Homo sapiens: one gene and its partner. The protein of the gene in region 1 interacts with the protein of each later gene in a pairwise test. Each region holds a gene or a part of one and is shown on either strand. Other genes may lie near its edges.

Evidence for each region. The genes of interacting proteins can lie anywhere in the genome.
Region 2: the proteins of PPP2R3B (region 1) and NOD2 interact in binary tests that used the Homo sapiens proteins (3 or more experiments, as listed by UniProt).

The regions. Positions count from the first base shown.
Region 1 is NC_000023.11:384,108-388,183, reverse strand, and holds the start of PPP2R3B (serine/threonine-protein phosphatase 2A regulatory subunit B'' subunit beta), read left to right. Parts: upstream 1-1,276; 5' UTR 1,277-1,492; coding exon 1,493-1,816; intron 1,817-3,078; exon of another isoform or gene 3,079-3,142; intron 3,143-4,076. UniProt on the Homo sapiens protein: The B regulatory subunit might modulate substrate selectivity and catalytic activity, and might also direct the localization of the catalytic enzyme to a particular subcellular compartment.
Region 2 is NC_000016.10:50,700,106-50,703,605, reverse strand, and holds part of NOD2 (nucleotide-binding oligomerization domain-containing protein 2), read right to left. Parts: intron 1-3,500. UniProt on the Homo sapiens protein: Pattern recognition receptor (PRR) that detects bacterial peptidoglycan fragments and other danger signals and plays an important role in gastrointestinal immunity.

The DNA of each region.
Region 1 (4,076 bases):
CTGTCGCCCAGGCTGGAGTGCAATGGTGTGATCTCAGCTCACTGCAACCTCCACCTCCTGGGTTCAAGCAATTCTCCCGCCACAGCCTCCCGAGTAGCTGGGACTACAGGCACACGCTACTATGCCCGGCTAATTTTTCTATTTTTAGTAGAGATGGTGGGGGCGGTTTCACTATGCTGGCCAGGCTGGTCTCGAACTCCTGACTTCGTGATCTGCCCGCTTCAGCCTCCCAAAGTGCCGGGATTACAGACTTGAGCCACCGCGCCCGGCCAAGGGTTACTTATTGAGTCTGGCTCGATTTATGCAGCTCAGAAGTAGGAGAACCTGGCTCATAAAAGACCTTGAAATTACTCTCTAACAGGGTGCAACACCAGGTGAAACCCTATTTTGATAAAAAATGAATAAAAAGCGGGGCAAGATGTAAAGGAAACAGGTGCATGTGTGCCAGACAGATGATAATGCAGTGTTTTTATGGATACTGTTAAAAGCAGAAACAAAAACGACCATTGGGTAAAGTTATTTAACTAATGTCACCTCCCTGGACGTGGATGATTTTTGCAATTTTCAACGCACTTCACGCTCATCCCTGAACACCAACGTTTAAAGGGGTCCAACTCCTCCAACCTGTCTCTACTGTTTGATAAGCAAAGCTAAAGTAAACGGGGCCCTTTGGGTCCCAGGTAGCCCGCTGTTATTGAAAAGTTTGATCTTTTCCTCGCGCGCTCCCGTAGGACGCACGCTCGCTCCCGAGCTCGGCGGGCGCGCACCCCGCATGCTCGCTCGTTCCCGGTGCCTCCCACTGCGCAGGCGCACTCCCGTCCTCCAGCCCCACCCGCTCACACACCTCCCAGCCTCTGGCTTGCGCCCCGCGGGCAGCCATTGCGCACGCTCACCCGACCGGCCTCCCGAACTCCGCTCCTCCACCGCTATGCACGGCGCATGCTCCATGCGGAGGTTCCACCCTCTCCTCGCTCTGGCAGGCACGCATTGCGCATGCTCGCATTTCCGCAGCTCTAGGACTGCCACGCCGCCATGGGCCGCGCCTCTAAAAATCCTAAACGCAGAAAGAGCTCGGGCGGTACGGCCGCCACAGCCCCTCCCTCGTCCTCACCGCAGCCGCTCGGCCCCACCAAAGCCTCCTGCAAAAGCTCCGAGGGCCGCGGGGCGCGCGTGGCTAGCGGCGGCGTCGCCTCGTGATGACATCGTCGCGATGACGCGACGCAGTGACGTGAACGCGGGCGCCCTTGTTTGGGAGCGCGGCCGGCGCGCCCGTTTTGAAGCTGCCCTGAGCAGCGCGGGCCGGACCGCGCCCCCTCCTCGGTCCCCGCGCCCCGCGAGTCCGCGCAGTTCCCGAGGCGCGGGCCCTGTTCCCTGCGCCGCGCCCCCTCAGCGGGCCGTGCTCGCATCACCGAGGTCGGTCCGGGGCGGACCGAAGCCCCCGGGGCGGGGCGGGGCGCGGGCGTCCGGGGGCGCCGCGGGCCCAGCCCCCGCCATGCCGCCCGGCAAAGTGCTGCAGCCGGTCCTGAAGATGAAGGTGGACGAGCTGTTCCTGTACTGGCTCAGCGAGGCCAGCACGCAGCGGATGCTGCAGGACTGCCTGCGCCGGATCAAGGCGCCCGGGCGGGACCAGCCGACCCCGGGGGACGGGGAGCAGCCCGGGGCCTGGCCCACAGCCCCGCTCGCCGCCCCCCGGCCCAGCGGGCTCGAACCCCCGGGAACCCCCGGGCCGGGCCCTGCGCTGCCCCTGGGCGCCGCCTCCAGCCCCAGGAACGCGCCCCACGTTCGAGGCACCCGTAGATCCGCAGGGACGAGAGTAGTAAGTTACTCTTCCTTCTGCTAACAACTGCGCAGGTGGCTCTGGTCGCATAGTGGGCGTGTGGCTGCGCGATGGAGGCTGGTGGGCGAGCGTCAGACCCCAAAACGGTTTCATATTGAGTCTGTTCCCCGCCCCGACCCCCCCCACCACACACATACAGACAAGAAAGTCCCACGTACTGAACATTCCGTCATTGACAGTTGTTAACCTAAAAATCACACAATTTATAAAGGTAGAAAGGCTTCCTATTTTATTTTATTTTATTATTTTAATTTGTTTTAATTTTGAGACAGAGTTTTGCTCTGTTGCCCAGGCTGGAGTACGATGGCGCGATCTTGGCTCACTGCAACCTCTGCCTCCCAGGTTCAAGCGATTCTCCTGCCTCAGGCTCCCGAGGAGCTGGGACTTACAGGCACGTGCCACCACGCCTGGCTGATGTTGTATTTTTAGTAGAGACTGGGTTTCCCCCATGTGGGCCAGGCTGGTCTCGAACTCCTGACCTCAAGTGATCCTCCCGCCTTGGCCTCCCAAAGTGCTGGGATTTCAGACGTGAGTCACTGCGCCTGGTCCGTTTTTTATTTATTTTACAATTCTTTGGAGACAGGGTCTTGCTCTGTCTCCTAGGCTGGAGTGCAGTGGCGCAAACACAGTTGGACTTCCTGCCTCAGCCTCCCCAGTAGCTGGGATTACAGGCGTGCACCATCACGCCAGGCTAATTTTTGTTTATTTATTTATTTATTTATTTTTGCAGAGACGAGGTCTTGCTATGTTACCTAGAGTGCTCTGGAATTCCTGGGTCCAAGCAATCCTCCCGCTTCGGCCTCCCAAAATCCCACTGTATTTCTTAGAAGAAACGCCATTTATTTCATAGAAGGTGATTATACACCGCAGGTGAGAAGCGCAGCCTCTGGCTAATGTACCTGTAATCTCAGCTACCCGGGAGGCTGAGGCAGGAGAATCACTGGAACCCAGGAGGCAGAGGCTGCACTCCAGCCTGGGCACCAGAGCAAGACTCCATCTCAAAAAAAAAAAAAAAAAAAAAAAAAAGAAAACTAAAAACAAGCACTTGGAGGGAAGAAAAGATGAGACGGGAATTTATGCTGAGTGGGTTGGCCAAGTGTATATATTCAAGAAGTTATAGGAAGAGCTATGGATATTCACCAAGGGTGTCCTGACGCATGGGTATTGAACAAACATGCATGTTACCTACTCCCGAGTTCACCTTGGAGCGGAGACTTAACATTTAAATGCATTATGGTTAGGCCCCCTAGGTCAAAAGGTGAAGCAACTCTGCAGCCTCTGTCAACCGGCCAGAACCAGTCCGTGGTGAGTAGTTACCAGGATAAAGTGATTGCAATCAGTTTTTTTTTTTTTTTTTTTTTTTTGAGACAGATTCTCACTCTCACCCAGGCTGAGATGCAATGGTGCAATCTCAGCTCACTGCAACCTCCGCCTCCCGGGTTCAAGCGATTCTCCTCCCTCAGCCTCCCGAGTAGCTGTGATTACAGGCGCACACCACCACCCCCGGCTAATTTTTGTATTTTTAGTAGAGGCAGGCTTTCACCTTGTTGGCTAGACTGGTCTCAAACTCCTGACCTCAGGTGATCCACCCGCCTCAGCCTCTCAAAGTGCTGGGATGACAGGCGTGAGCCACCACACCTGGCCTGGAATCAGTCTTTTCCCAGTCAAAGCTGTAGTTACGGCTGGTGGAACAGAGGGGTCTGTTCATCAGGATCTGACAGGAAGCTGCAGGTGTTTTAATATTGTTTATATTGGTCAGGCATGGTGACTCACGCCTGTGATTCCAGCATTTGGGAGTTGGAGGCAGGCAGATCACTTGAGTTCAGGAGTTCGAGACCAGCCTGGGCAACATGGCGAAACCCCATCTCTGCTAAAAATACACAAATTAGCCAGGCGTGGTGGCGCACCTGAAGTCTCAGCTACTCAGGAGGCTGAGGCAGGAGAAATGCTTGAAGCTGGGAGTCGGAGATTACTGTGAGCTGAGATTGCACCACTGCTCACCAGCCTGAGCAACAGAGGAAGGCCCTGTCTCAAAAAAAAAAAAAAAGTATATATATATATATAGAGAGAGAGAGAGAGAGAGAGTCTTCTTGCGTGCGCGAGCTTGAGGCCAAGATAAGCAATAGAGAAAAAGAAAAACATCCTTTATTTACTTCTTGAATCTCAAAAACGAGTTTCTGCAGAGGTCTCTAGTGAATAACCTAAAAGGACATTTAGCTGCTGGAGAAAAAGAAATGCT
Region 2 (3,500 bases), on another chromosome or scaffold:
TTCAAGCAGTGCGATCTCGGCTCACTGCAACATCTGCCTCCCGGGTTCAAGCGATTCTCCTGCCTCAGCCTCCCGAGTAGCTGGGACTACAGGCACATGCCACTATTCTTGGCTAATTTTTTGTATTTTTAGTAGAGACGGGGTTTCTCCATGTTGGCCAGGATGGTCTCGATCTCCTGACCTTGTGATCCACCTGCCTCAGCCTCCCAAAGTACTGGGATTAAAGGCTTGAGCCACTGCACCCAGCCTAATTTAAGTGACCTTTCTTTACACAGCTATTTTTGGCTTGCTACTCAGTTTTTCAAAATAGAACAATACATTATTTGGGGATTTATTTTAAAAGATGCTAAAACATTAAAGAAAGGCAAAGAGATGATTTACACAAAAGTCAAGCCAGTGTTTACCTCTAGCAGTTGCAGTTAAAGAAGGCCCCAGGTACTGGCAACATCCTGTTTTTTAACCTGGGTGATGGGAACAGTTTACACTATACATATGAAATATACACACTCTTCTGTATGCATGGTGCATTTCCCAATTTAAAAAATGTTTAAGTTAATATTGTTATAGGAATCAGGCAATTCAGAGCTCAGTCTGACACCTCAGCCCTATCAACTTTAACAGTTGCATGAGTCAGACGGACAGCTGGTATTACAGCTGGTGTTACCAGCCTCAGGTTTCCTAACAACTGCTATGCCCAACTGAGCAAGTTTACCACACAAAGCCCCCACATTTTATGACAGACAGAGAATAGCACAAGCTCTGGAGGAAAACAGGCCTGGATTCAAATTCTAGCTGGGCCGCTTCCCAGATGGGCGATTTGGGCAGTTTCTTCATTGTTAAGAAACAGTGTAGTCACACTATACCCTTGTGAGGCTTAAATAAAACAATACAGGGAATGGACTGGGTACAGTGTCTGGCACACAGTAGGAATTCACTCAGTCAATAGTAGCAATGGGTATTTTTGGAATTTAGTTCTTTAACTTGCATTTTGTTTCATTCCACAGCATTTTCTGTCCCTAACCTGCAATCAATGACAACTACTTCTTTATAGGAAATTAAAAGGCCATTTGGGAAGACATGTTGGTTGGATATACCACAAGCACCATCCAAATGAAATCAGTAAGGCCACTAAGGGAAGGCCACCAAATCAGAGTCACAGAATGTCAGAGCTCAAAGGGAGCTCAGAGAGAGCTGGATTCTAAAGGCTTAAACCTCAGGCAGTGCAATCCTTTCAAAATCTCCTGCTCTCCTCAGATCTGTTGTCTCCCATCCCTGCTACCCACTCAGCTCAGTCCCAACCTTCAATGTTTGCTTTTGCTGTCTATTTAGCCCTTTCTTAAGATGAATTCTTAGCTCATTAAAATTCAGCCTTAGATGGGCGCAGTGGCTCATGCCTGTAATCCCAGCACTTTGGGAAGCCGAGGGAGGAGGATTACTTGAGCCCAGGAGTTTGAGACCTCAACATAGCAAGACCCTGTGTCTACAAAAAAAAAATTAGCCTGGTATGGTGGTGCTAGCCTGTGTCCCACCTACTTGGAAGGCTGAGGCGGGAGGATCACTTCAGCCCAGAAGTTCGAGACTTCAGTGATTTATGATCGTGCTACTGCACTCCAGCAGCCTGGGTGACACAGTGAGACCCCCATCTCAAATAAATAAATAAACAAATAAATAAACAAATGCCTTCCTTCTTTCCTAATCTAGGCACCTAAGGTTGTAAATTTCCCCCTATGTCCTGCTTTAGCTGCATCCAATAGATTTTGATAAATAATATTCTCATTATTGTATGGTTCTGAATATTTTCTGATTTCCATCATGATTTCTTCTTTGACCCATGAGTTATCCCATTTCTTTTCTTCACCAATCCATGTACTTCCTCTGTTCACATCCTGTCTTCTCTGGGCCCTAGGGATCTAGGCTACCTTCTCCAAACCCCTCAGACCATCTGTACCACATCACATTGCTGAACTTTTAAAGATGACAAGACACAATCTTGTAACTTCTCAGATGGGCTGATTCAATTCCCCTAACAAATTATAAGAGAAACTAAGGTCAGTCCAATAACGAATATGTCTTCTGTACGTGCAACTAATCAGAGAGGACTGCACCACTTCTGCTCTGTAAATACCTAGCCATGTGAGCCAGCTTTAGTGCAGCCTTGAAGACAAATTTATTTATGTCATCAATCTCAATCTAGGGTTATCCAGACTCATGTGAACAACACATACATTTTTGGAAAACAGACAAAAACAAAAACTAAAATGTTCCCCAACCCAGCCCATTTTAACACTGCAGTGTCATTCTAATTCAATCATTCATTCAGTAACTCACTTATTTCATCAACAAATGTTTATGGAGTACCTACCGTGTGCAAAGCTCTATGAACACAACAAACTTTAAGCAAATATGTATGAAGCACCTAATAGATTCTGGCTGAATAAATGAATGATGGATGAATAAGTCAATGACCAGTGCTGGCCAATTGGTCCAGCACTGGCCCCCTCATTAACTACTGTGAGCTTATTCAAACTACTTTCCTTGGTCTCAACTTCCCGATTTATAAAGTGGAATGTTAATGATTGTTCCATCTGCCTCTCAGGAGCCCTAAGAATCACTATTTGGAAGAAAACAAAAGAGTTTCAAAAATACTCAGTGGTCATTTCTCTGACCTTCTGGTCTCTGCTGAGTTACTACATTCTCAGGGGCTGTTATATACCAACTCTGAACATCTATGATCTAATGCAATTTCATGTCAGAAATCCTACATAAACATTTAAGCTATATTAGTTTATAATATGCTATGTTAATTATAAAATAAATTCAATATACTGCAGTGTTATGGTCTGTTGTGCTGTTAATTTAAAACAGACAGAAATAAAAGTGTACAAGTACAGAGTATCACTCATAACAGAAATAATAAATAGCAGCCAGTGGTAATAGACACTATCCTAAGCATTACTCAAATTAACTCACTGAATCCTCCCAAGAGCCTTATAGGATAGGCACCATTTGACTATTAACATTGTTTTGTAGATGAGGAAACTGAAACAAGGGAGACTGAGGCTGGAGAGGCTCCATAGGGAAGCCTGAGATCACACAGGGTTGACCTTGAGCCTGCACCATTCTGGCTCCAGAATCTGAGTTCCTGGCCACCACACACTTCCTCTCGGCAGAAGTGTTCTGTTGGCCAGGCAAAGTGGCTCATGCCTGCAATCCCAACAGTTTGGGAGGCCAAGGCGGGAGGATTGCTTAAAGCCAGGAGCTGGAGACCAGCCTGGGCAACATAGCAACACCCCATCTCTAAAAGAAAAAAAAAAAATTAGCTGTTCATGGTGGTACAGCAGCCGTAGTCCCAGCTACTCTAAGGCCAGAAGATCACTTGAGCGCAGGAATTCAAGGCTACAGTGAGCTATGATTGTGCCACTGCATTCTAGCCAGGGTAACAGAGTGAGAAAAAGAAAAGAAAAGAAGAAAGAAAGAGTTGTACGTTTCCTGCCAAGAGT